2 separate regions of the Homo sapiens genome follow, and region 2 is linked to region 1. Evidence: fine-mapped expression QTL. A gene starts in region 1. The other region holds a variant in brackets. All regions are shown on one strand. Distances are between the middles of the regions.

What was found. PIP is the estimated chance that this variant, and not a neighbour inherited with it, causes the effect. A credible set is the group of variants that fine-mapping cannot tell apart.
Region 2: its variant is the best candidate, but not a certain one, in a credible set for the expression of TMEM244 in whole blood (INTERVAL, PIP 0.68).

What each region holds. Positions count from the first base shown.
Region 1 is chr6:129,858,043-129,863,433 of GRCh38, reverse strand. It overlaps TMEM244 (transmembrane protein 244), which reads left to right and starts at 2,119. Exons shown (of 5, transcript NM_001010876.2): 1 at 2,119-2,278. The coding sequence starts at 2,246. LOC105377999 (a long non-coding RNA gene) reads right to left here. Exons shown (of 8, transcript XR_942986.3): 2 at 4,009-4,104.
Region 2 is chr6:129,834,468-129,839,858 of GRCh38, reverse strand. All of the region lies in intron 3 of TMEM244 (transmembrane protein 244), which reads left to right. Among named protein-coding and RNA genes, the nearest start is that of TMEM244, 24 kb to the left of the region's middle. The variant A/T (reference allele first, on the strand shown) is at 3,104.

The DNA of each region.
Region 1 (5,391 bases):
GCATTTACTGAGGGTCCACCGTGTGCTGAAATCTGAAGACAACACTGGGAGCTGTTACAATGTTACCAGCAGGCAGAAAAGTCTTTTTCTGCAAGAACTCACAATATAAGCAGAGAACAGGGCAACCACACATTAAAAGATTTATCTAAGGTATATTAATAAAAGAGCATTGACAGTGTTATTAATATGCATTATGAATGTCAAATTCAATAACATATTCAGATGAAAACTATCAAGGCCTGGACTTGCTGAAGGCACTCTTTTCACCTTTGCTTTTGGTATGCAGGTAGATATTGCAGAATGTGCTCTTTATAGCGGTTAACAAGATGCTGTAATGGAAAAAGGATTACAGGGCACAGCTAAGTTCCCATCTAAAGTTGGTGCCACAGCAAAGCAATCAATCAACAAAGTGAAGACACCAACCCGCAGAATGGGAAAAAAAATACTCAAACACTACCCATCTGACAAGGGGCTAACAACCAGAATATATAAGGAGCTCAAACAACTGTAGAGGAAAAAATCTAATAATATGATTTAAAAATGATCAAAATATCTGAATAGACATTTCTCAGAACAAGACATACAAATGGCAAACTGGTATGTGAGAAGTGCTCAACATCATCGATCATCAGAGAAAGGCAAATCAAAACTACAAAGAGATATGACTTCACCCCAGTTAAAATGGCTTTTATCCCAAAACAGGCAATAACAAATGCTGGTGAGGATGTGAAGAAAAGGACACCCTCATACACTGCTGGTGGGAATGTAAATTAGTACAGCCACTATGGAGAACAGTTTGGAGGTTCCTCAAAAGAGAAAAATAGGACTGCCATATGATCCAGCAATCCCACTGCTGAGCATATACCCCAAAGAATGGAAATCAGTCTATCGGAGAGGTATCTGCATGCCCATGTATATTGCAGCATGTTTCACAATATCCAAGATTAAGAAACAACCTAAATGTCCATCAACAGACAAGTGGATAAAGAAATGTGGTACAGGTACAGAATAGAATTCAGCCAAAGGAAAGAATGAAATCCTGTCATTTGCAACAATATGGATGGAACTGGAGGTCCTTATGTTAAGTGAAATAAACCAGGCACAGAAAGACAAACTTCATATGTTCCTACTTATTTGTGGGAACTAAAAATGGAAACAATTGAACTCATTGAGATGGAAAGTAAAAGAATGGTTACCAGAAGCTGGGAAGGGTAGTGGGAGAAAAGGGGGAGTGTGGGGATGGTTAATGCATACAAAAAAGAGAGAGAATGTATAAGATCTAGTATTTGATAGCACAACAGAGTGACTATAGTCAATAATAATTTAATTGTACATTTAAAAATAACTAAAAGGGTATAATTGGATTGCTTGTAACACAAAGAATAAATGCTTGAGGTGATGGAAATCCCACTTACCTTGATGTGATCATTACATATTAGATGCCTATATCAAAATATATCATGTACCCCATAAACTCTATGGGGTATATTACTATATTACTATGTAATCACAGCAATTAAAAATTAAAATAAAAATAATAATAGAGTTGGTGCCAGTAAAAAGATGGGAGAATGAATTGTAAATGAAGGATTGGTTCTGGAGCCTCAGGACGCAGAGAGACAGAGCTCCAATACTGCCTCCTGGCAGTTCTTGAAAACATTCTACCCACAATATTGTGGCCATTATTTTAGAGTATGGGAACCCTTTTGTTTCCTAACAAAAAGTCATAAGTTTTACATTTCTTTGCCATGATGTGAAAGGAACTGATGATTTCTTTCTCAGAACTCTGTGGCCCTTGTGAGTGAAACAGAGAGGACAGGCCACGCTTCAACATGAATGCAGCAGCATCCTTTGGAAACAATCTCAAGACCTAACTGAAAACCCATGTTTCTAATTTAAGTATGAGACAGTAATTACTCATACAGCCAGAGAGGATTCCAAGTCCCTGCCTATTTGCCGCACTATCTAAAAACAATCAACTCATCTTTCAAATCTGACCAAACTACAAATGGTATGAGAACTCCATCGTTTAATAAGGATGTTCATTTTGGCACTTAGCAGCTTACGCGTGGCTCACAGATGGCATCTGTCTCGTTTTGCGTAATCCAATCATCCTGCACTACTGCGTCTCACACTTAGTCTCCAGGAGTAATTGAAAAGCTCACGGTGACAATTGTGTCTTCTTCCAGATGTCATCGCTATAAGGAGTGGGGCTTTCATCACCTCCTTGACGTAGGATGTGTACATGGCTCTCCAGGTCAGAGTTGCTCCAAGCAAGGTAAAGAGAAATTACTTCTTTGCATTGCCTTTCAGTTGCTGCCTAGCACTGGTGTAAATGAATATGTTCTATAAATGGCCTCTCTGTCAGTGGGCAACTTGTTTCACTTTTGGCTGGGTACCATACAGAAAACATTCTGCTGCACGGCTTGCATCTTGTGGTAATAGGGCAATATAAAGGCACCCATGCCCAAGAAAGGATTCTAAAACATGTAAATAGTCGCTGTTTAGAAGGCACCATTTTATTCGGAGGTAAGCTCTCTGGTATTAGCACCTGCACGTCTGCTATCGTTTTCTGAAATCATGACAGTTTGTTCTCAATCTTTTTTTCTTTTTTTTTTTTGCAGGGAGTGGCTTTTATTTTTGTAACTTCTAAAGGGTGCGCAAAATTTTAAATGCAAAGTGTTGAAACATTTCAAGCTGTAGGTTTGTTAGTTTCTTTTTCCCCCGAGGCTAGTGTTAATAGTTGTGTTTTACTTCAGTGCAAAAATACCCCTTTAAAAAAAAATCAAACAATCGAAAACAAGGAAATATGCAAAGCCTCAAAGCAGCTGTGTAAATTCATACAGGCTTTAGGCCTATAATGAGCCAGACTTAAGGGAATGATAGTGGAAAATCAGATTTTTACTTAAAAATTAAATTACAATTATGAGTGAGTGCTACATTCATTTTAGTAAAATATCAGCACCGTGTGTATTTCCTCAAGCTTTTTCTTTACACTACCATCATCACCACATATGTCATCAGTGAGAAATGTTGAGCATGACAACAGCTAAGAAAAATTTTCAAGGTCAGTAAAACATTATTTCAGGAAAAATATTTTTAAAAAGCTTATTTTTAAGGGGTTATTAAACTTCGTAATTTATGTATAGATTTGGGATTGAACTAGCAATAATAACTTCTGCTGAAGAGATAAAAATTAGAAGATAAAATCCTTTCTCTTAAGTAGCTTACACAAAGAATGGGGGCTCTATATTTAGTCGGGGCTTACACAGACCAGACAGACAGACACACACACACACACACACACACACACACACACACACACACACGCATTGCAGAGAAAATATCCAGATAGTTGCTGCAGTTCCTCACTATCTTAGAATCATCTGAGCTTCAAGTGTAGAATTAGAGCCTTAGAACATTAGAAGAATAGTGAATATGTTCAAAATAGATAGGTTGTTGACTATCTGAATTCTCATGATACATCCCTATAAGTTATGAGTTAACTTTTCTTTTAAGTGCTTGTTCACTGTCAATATTATCAGCACAAGAATTACTGATATGCTTATAAATTAATAGTAATAGCAAAAGTGACCTTCATCTAGAGATAACTCGAATACTCAACAAACATTTATTGAGTGCATGCAATGTGCCAGGCATTGGGCTAATTAAATCCCCCCTATCTGTACACTTTAAATGACAGAAAAGCTGACTCAAGGGAAAGAGTCATGGCCAAAGGCCATTTAATTAATTTGCTGTCTGGGAAAATAGCACAAGAACTGGGAAGAAAGCCCAAGTATGAGGACTGCTAAACTGTTCAGAATACAATGTATTCTACTCCAGTAGACGGCATGTTTCCTAACTATGTTAAACTAATGTAAACTTTCCTCTGTAAAACAAATGTTGTAAAAATCTCAGAAGCACAACACATTCCTGCATATCCTCAGAGTTGTTCACCTGAACTGGAGAATTTCATTCATTCAGGCAATTTCAGAGGGAACTACTTACCAGTAGGACGGAGCCTTTGCTGTGATTCTACAAGTGAGAGAGTCATATCTCATGATTTCTCCAGGAATTGTCCAAAGAACTACAATGCAGTCTTTCCTATGGGGAGAAGTAAGAGAGAAAGTATTATCTATTGGGAACATACAGTACTTAATGTTAAGAATTGTATACATGTTCAGAATACAAATCCCTTATGAAACTTTACCTGTAGATGAGTAGAACAAAACTCAGAAAGTAACCAGCCAATGTCACACACTTGTCAGTGATGAACTGGGGGAGAAACTCCAGTGGATCTGACTTAGAGTCCACATACTTTATTAATAGACTATGGTTCCGGCCAGGCGTGGTGGCTCATGCCTGTAATCCCAGCACTTTAGGAGGCCAAACCGGACGATCACTTTAGGTCAGGAGTTCGATACCAGCCTGGTAAACATGGTGAAACCCCATCTCTACTAAAAATACAAAAATTAGCTGGGTGTGGTGGTGCACACCTGTAGTCCCAGCTACTCAGGGAGGCTGAGGCAAGAGAATTCCTTGAAGCCGGGAGGCAGAGGTTACAGTGAGCTGAGATTGTGTCACTGTACTCCAGCCTGGGTGACAGAGCAAGACTCTGTTTCAAAAAAAAAAAAGACTATGGTTCCTACTATAGTGGTCTTGTCTTCCATTATTTCTTTCCTTCCTTCCATGATTATTATTCAAAATATATTTATTGAATACCTATGAAAGCCTGACCAATATTTTGGGGGCTGAAGAATTAAATGTGGTCAAATCAGTGTCTGTCTTTTAGAGACTGGAGAAAGAAATGTATACCTCCAAAAGTAGGTATGCTACAATACAAATTTGATGAGATCTATAAGACAAATATAATATTATGGAAGCAATTAAAATAAGATAGAGATTGATTCTGTCCTGCAGTGAGGGGTGGAGTGAGAAGATGATATATGAGCCAGACCTAGAGAATATAGCTACTTGCTCTGTAAAGAAGAGTGAAGCTACTGTAGGCAATGGGAACATTCTGCTTTGCAAAATCACACAAGGGCTTCCAGTTTCCATAGACTAAATGGAGAAGGCTATTACAGAAGGACTAGGCCTAGATTTCACAAAAGAATTCTCCTAAGTCTTCAAAGATCATATACTCCCAATGCTACTTAAATCATTTGAGTATAGAAAAACAAGAAAAGCCACAAGAAAGTTTTATGAAACAAGAAATATGTTGTCACCTAAACCATATAAATATAGTACAAAAAATAAACTATAGATCAATCTCACTTATGAATACAGAAAAATCTAAACATATTAGCAAACAGAACCCAAGAACTCGTCATAAAAATAAAACATCATGACCAAGTGACATTTATTCCAAAAATGTACGGATGGTTCAATATT
Region 2 (5,391 bases), 24 kb after region 1:
TCCTAGGTATTTTATTATCTTTGTAGCAATTGTGAATGGGAGTTCACTCATGTTTTGGCTCTCTGTTTGTCTATTATTTGTGTATAGGAATGCTTGTGATTTTTCCATGTTGATTTTGTATCCTGAGACTTTGCTGAAGTTGCTTATCAGCTTAAGGAGACTTTGGGCTGAGACAATGGGGTTTTCTAAATATACAATCATGTCATCTGCAAACAGAGATAATTTGACTTCCTCTTTTCCTAATTGAATACGCTTTATTTCTTTCTCTTGCCTGATTGCCCTGGCCAGAACTTCCAACATTATGTTGAATAGGAGTGCTGAGAGAGGGCATCCTTTTCTTGTGCCAGTTTTCAAAGGGAATGCTTCCAGTTTTTGCCCATTCAGTATGACATTGGCTGTGGGTTTGTCATAAATAGCTCTTTTTATTTTGAGACGCGTTCCATCAATACCTAGTTTATTGAGAGTTTTTAGCATGAAGGGCTATTGAATTTTGTTGAAGGCCTTTTCTGCATCTATTGAGACAATCATGTGGTTTTTGTCATTGGTTCTGTTTACATGATGGATTACGTTTATTGATTTGAATATGTTGAACCAGCCTTGCATCCCAGGGATGAAGCCAGCTTGTTCATGGTGGATAAACTTTTTTATGTGCTGCTGGATTCGGTTTGACAGTATTTTACTGAGGATTTTTGCGTTGATGTTCATCAGAAATATTGGCTTGAAGTTCTCCTTTTCTGTTGTGTCTCTACCAGGCTTTGGTATCAGGATGATGCTAGCCTCATGAAATGAGTTAGGGAGGATTCTCTCTTTTCTATTGATTGGAATACTTTCAGAAGGAATGGTACCAGCTCCTCTTTGTACCTCTGGTAGAATTTGGCTATGAATCCATCTGGTCATGGACTTTTTTTGGTTGATAGGCCATTAATTATTTCCTCTATTTCAGAACCTGTTATTGGTCTATTCAGAGATTCAGCTTCTTCCTGATTTAGTCTTGGGAGGGTGTATGTGTCCAGGAATTTATCCATTTCTTCTAGATTTTCTAGTTTATTTGCACAGAGGTGTTTATAATATTCTCTGATGGTAGTTTGTATTTCTGTGGGATCGGTGGTGATATCCCCCTTATCATTTTTTATTGCATCTATTTGATTCTTCTCTCTTTTCTTCTTTATTAGTCTTGCTAGTGGTCTATTTTGTTGATCTTCTCAAAAAACCAGCTCCTGGATTCACTGATTTTTTTGAAGGGTTTTTGTGTCTCCATCTCCTTCAGTTCTGCTCTGATCTTGGTTATTTCTTGCCTTCTGCTAGCTTTTGAATTTTTTTGCTCTTGCTTCTCTATTGTTAATTGTGATGTTAGGGTGTCAATTTTAGCTCTTTCCTGCTTTCTCTTGTGGGCATTTAGTGCTATAAATTTCCCTCTACATACTGCTTTAAATGTGTCCCAGAGATTCTGATACATTGTGTCTTTGTTCTCATTGGTTTCAAAGAACATCTTTATTTCTGCCTTCATTTTGTTATGTACCCAGTAGTCATTCAGGAGCAGGTTGTTCAGTTTCCATGTAGTTGTGAGGTTTTGAGTGAGTTTCTTAATCCTGAGTTCTAATTTGATTGCACTGTGATCTGAGAGATCAGTCTGAGAGACAGTTTGTTGTGATTTCTGTTCTTTTACATTTGCTGAGGAGTGTTTTACTACCAATTATGTGGTGAATTTTAGAGTAAGTGCGATGTGGTGCTGAGAAGAATGTATATTCCATTGATTTGGGGTGTAGAATTCGGTAGATGTCTATTAGGTCTGCCTGGTGCAGAGCTGAGTTCAAATCCTGGATATCCTTGTTAACCTTCTGTCTTGTTGATCTGTCTAATATTGACAGTGGGGTGTTAAAGTCTACCATTATTATTGTGTGGGAGTCTAAGTCTCTTTGTAGGTCCCTAAGGACTTGCTTTATTAATCCGAATGCTCCTATATTGTGTGCATATATATTTAGGATGGTTAGCTCTTCTTGTTGAATTGATCCCTTTAGCATTATGTAGTGGCCTTCTTTGTCTCTTTTGATCTTTGTTGGTTTAAAGTCTGTTGTATCAGAGACTAAGATTGTAACCCGCTTTTTTTGCTTTCCATTTGCTTGGTAGATCTTCCTCCATCCCTTTATTTTGAGCCTATGTGCGTCTTTGCACATGAGATGGGTCTCTTGAATACAGCACACTGATGGATCTTGACTCTTTATCCAATTTGCCAGTCTGTATATTTTAATTGGGGCATTTAGCCCATTTACATTTAAGGTTAATACTGTTATGTTTGAATTTAATCCTGTCATTATTATGTTAGCTGGTTATTTTGCCTGTTAATTGATGCAGTTTCTTCATAGCGTCTAAAGTCTTTACCATTTGGCATGTTTTTGCAGTGGCTAGTACCTGTTGTTCCTTTCCATGTTTAGTGCTTCCTTCAGTACCTCTTGTAAGGCAGGCCTGGTGGTGACAAAATCTCTCAGCATTTGCTTCTCTGTAAAGGATTTTAATTCTCCTTCACTTATGAAGCTTAGTTTGACTGGATATGAAATTCTGGGTTGAAAATTCTTTTCTTTAAGAATGTTGAATATTGGCCCCCACTCTTTTCTGGTTTGTAGGGTTTCTGCCAAGAGATCCACTGTTAGTCTGATGGGCTTCCCTTTGTGGGTAACCCAACCTTTCTCTCTGGCTGCCCTTAACATTTTTTCCCTCATTTCAACCTTGGCGAATCTGACAATTATATGTCTTCGAATTGCTCTTCTCGAAGAGTATCTTTGTGGTGTCTCTCTATTTTCTGAATTTGAATGTTGGCCTGCCTTGCTAGGTTAGGGAAGTTCTCCTGGATGATATCCTGAAGAGTGTTTTCTAACTTGGTTCCATTCTCCTATCACTTTCAGGTACACCCACCAAATGTATATTTGGTCTTTTCACACAGTCCTATATTTCTTGGAGGCTTTGTTCATTTCTTTTCACTCTTTTTTCTCTAATCTTGTCTTCTCACTTTATTTCATTAATTTGATCTTCAGTCACTGATATCCTTTCTTCCACTTGATGGAATTACCTATTAAAGCTTATGCATGCATCACAAAGTTCTCATTCC[A/T]TGGTTTTCAGCTCCATCAGGTCATTTAACATCATCTCCACACTGTTTATTCTAGTTAGCCATTCATCTAATCTTTTTTCAAGGTTTTTAGCTTCCTTGCAATGGGTTAGAAGATGCTCCTTTATCTCAGAGAAGTTTGTTATTACCAAGTAGGTTTCTGAAGCCTACTTCTGTCAACTCGTCAAACTCATTCTCCACCCAGTTTTGTTCCCTCACTGGCGAGGAGCTGTGATCCTTTGGAGGAGAAGAGGTGCTCTGTTTTTTAAAATTTTCAGCTTTTCTTCTCTGGTTTCTCCCCATCTTTGTGGTTTTATCTACCTTTGGTCTTTGATGTTGGTGACCTACAGATGGGGTTTTGAGGTGGATGTCCTTTTTGTTGATCTTGTTGCTATTTTTTTCTGTTTGTTAGTTTTCCCTCTAACAGTCAGACCCCTCAGCTGCAGATCTGTTGGGGTTTGCTGGAGGTCCACTCCAGACCCTGTTTGCCTAGGTATCACCAGTGGAGGCTGCAGAACAGCAAATATTGCTGCCTGATCCTTCCTCTGGAAGCTTCGTCCCAGAGGGGCACCTGCCTGTTTGAGGTGTCTGTCGGCCCCTACTGGGAGGTGTTTCCCAGTCAGGCTACACGGGGGTCAGGGACTCATTTGAGGAGGCAGTCTGTCTGTTCTCGGAGCTCGAATGCCATGCTGAGAGAACAACTGCTCTCTTCAGAGCTGTCAGACGGGACGTTTAAATCTGCAGAAGCTGACTGCTGCCTTTTGTTCTACTATGCCCTACCCCAAGAGGTAGAATCTATAGAGGCAGTAGGCCTTGCTGAGCTGTGGTGTGCTCCACCCAGTTCGTGCTTCCAGGCCTCTTTGTTTACACTGTGAGCTACTCAAGCCTCAGCAATGCAGACGCCCATCTCCACATCAAGATGCAGCGTCGCAGGTCTATCTCAGACTGCTGCACTAGCAGTGAGCAAGGCTCCGTGGGTGTGGGACCTGCCGAACCAGGCATGGGAGGGTATCTCCTGGTCTGACGGTTGCTAAGACTATGGGAATAGTGCAGTATTTTGTCAGGAGTGCACTGTTTCTCCACATACAGTCTGTCATGGCTTCCCTTAGCTAGGAAAGGGAAATCGCCCCACCCCTTGTGCTTCCCGGGTGAGGCAACACCCTGCCCTGCTTCAGCTTGCCCTCCATGGGCTGCACCCACTGTCCAACCAGTCCCAATGAGATGAACCAGGTACCTTAATTGGAAATGCAGAAATCACCCATCTTCTGCGTCGATCTCACTGGGAGCTGCAAACCAGAGCTGTTCCTATTCAGCCATCTTGGAAGTGACTCCATAACTCTTTTTTTTTTTTTTTAAGAGACAGAGATTCACTCTGTCACCCAGTCTCGAGTGCAGTGCAGTGGCATGATCATAGCTCATTGTAACTTCAAACTCCTGCACTCAAGAGATCCTCCCATCTCCACCTCCTGAGTAGCTAGGACTATGGAGCACACTATTATGCCAGGCTAAGTTTTTTTCAATTTCTTTTAGAGACAGAGTCTTGCTATATTGCCCAGTGTGGCCTTGAACTCCTAGCTTCAAGTGATGCTCCCACCTCGGCCTCCCAAAGTGCTGGAATTACAGGTGTGAACCACAGTGCCCAGACAAGGTCTTATGACTGTTATGCTGTAAAAGCGAGACTAGAATGCTGTTATCTTGACTTCAAATTTTGTATTACTTCCTTTAAGTCATGCTTTCTTTCCTATCATGAACAAAGCATAAGTATTCTCTATTAATATACATGAATGCAGCTTGTACAAGACTAAAATCACTATCTCCAAGCAGCTGCAAGTTAACCTATAAAATCTCTAAATGCTAACAAAAGAGGCATCTCTGTTTCCCTACAATAATGTCGTGATTCTGTAAACCAGTAGGGGAGGGAGGAATGAGATGTGATGGAAAGAGATGGTGTCAATATGACACAACAGGACAGTTCTTTCCTGGATATTAGGTGGCAGGGCATGCTGAACTGATCTCCACTGATCAAAGGAATTCCTGTGCAATAGAAAAGGAGTTAGTATGAATTCTGTATTTAACTTTTGAAACGTGTTAAGTTAAATTAAATAGAATTGAAGAGGAATATGTGTGAGGCCTTTAAAAAGATTGCACCTGGGGCATGCTTCCTTGGTGTCTCGCTTACCGACTGCAATCACTGGCTTGCTGGATAATAAATTACTTCTGCACAGTAGGACATAAGGTGATTATTTTATTTTTTGCTTTGAAAAATATAGAGTTTGCTTAGATTTATTTAT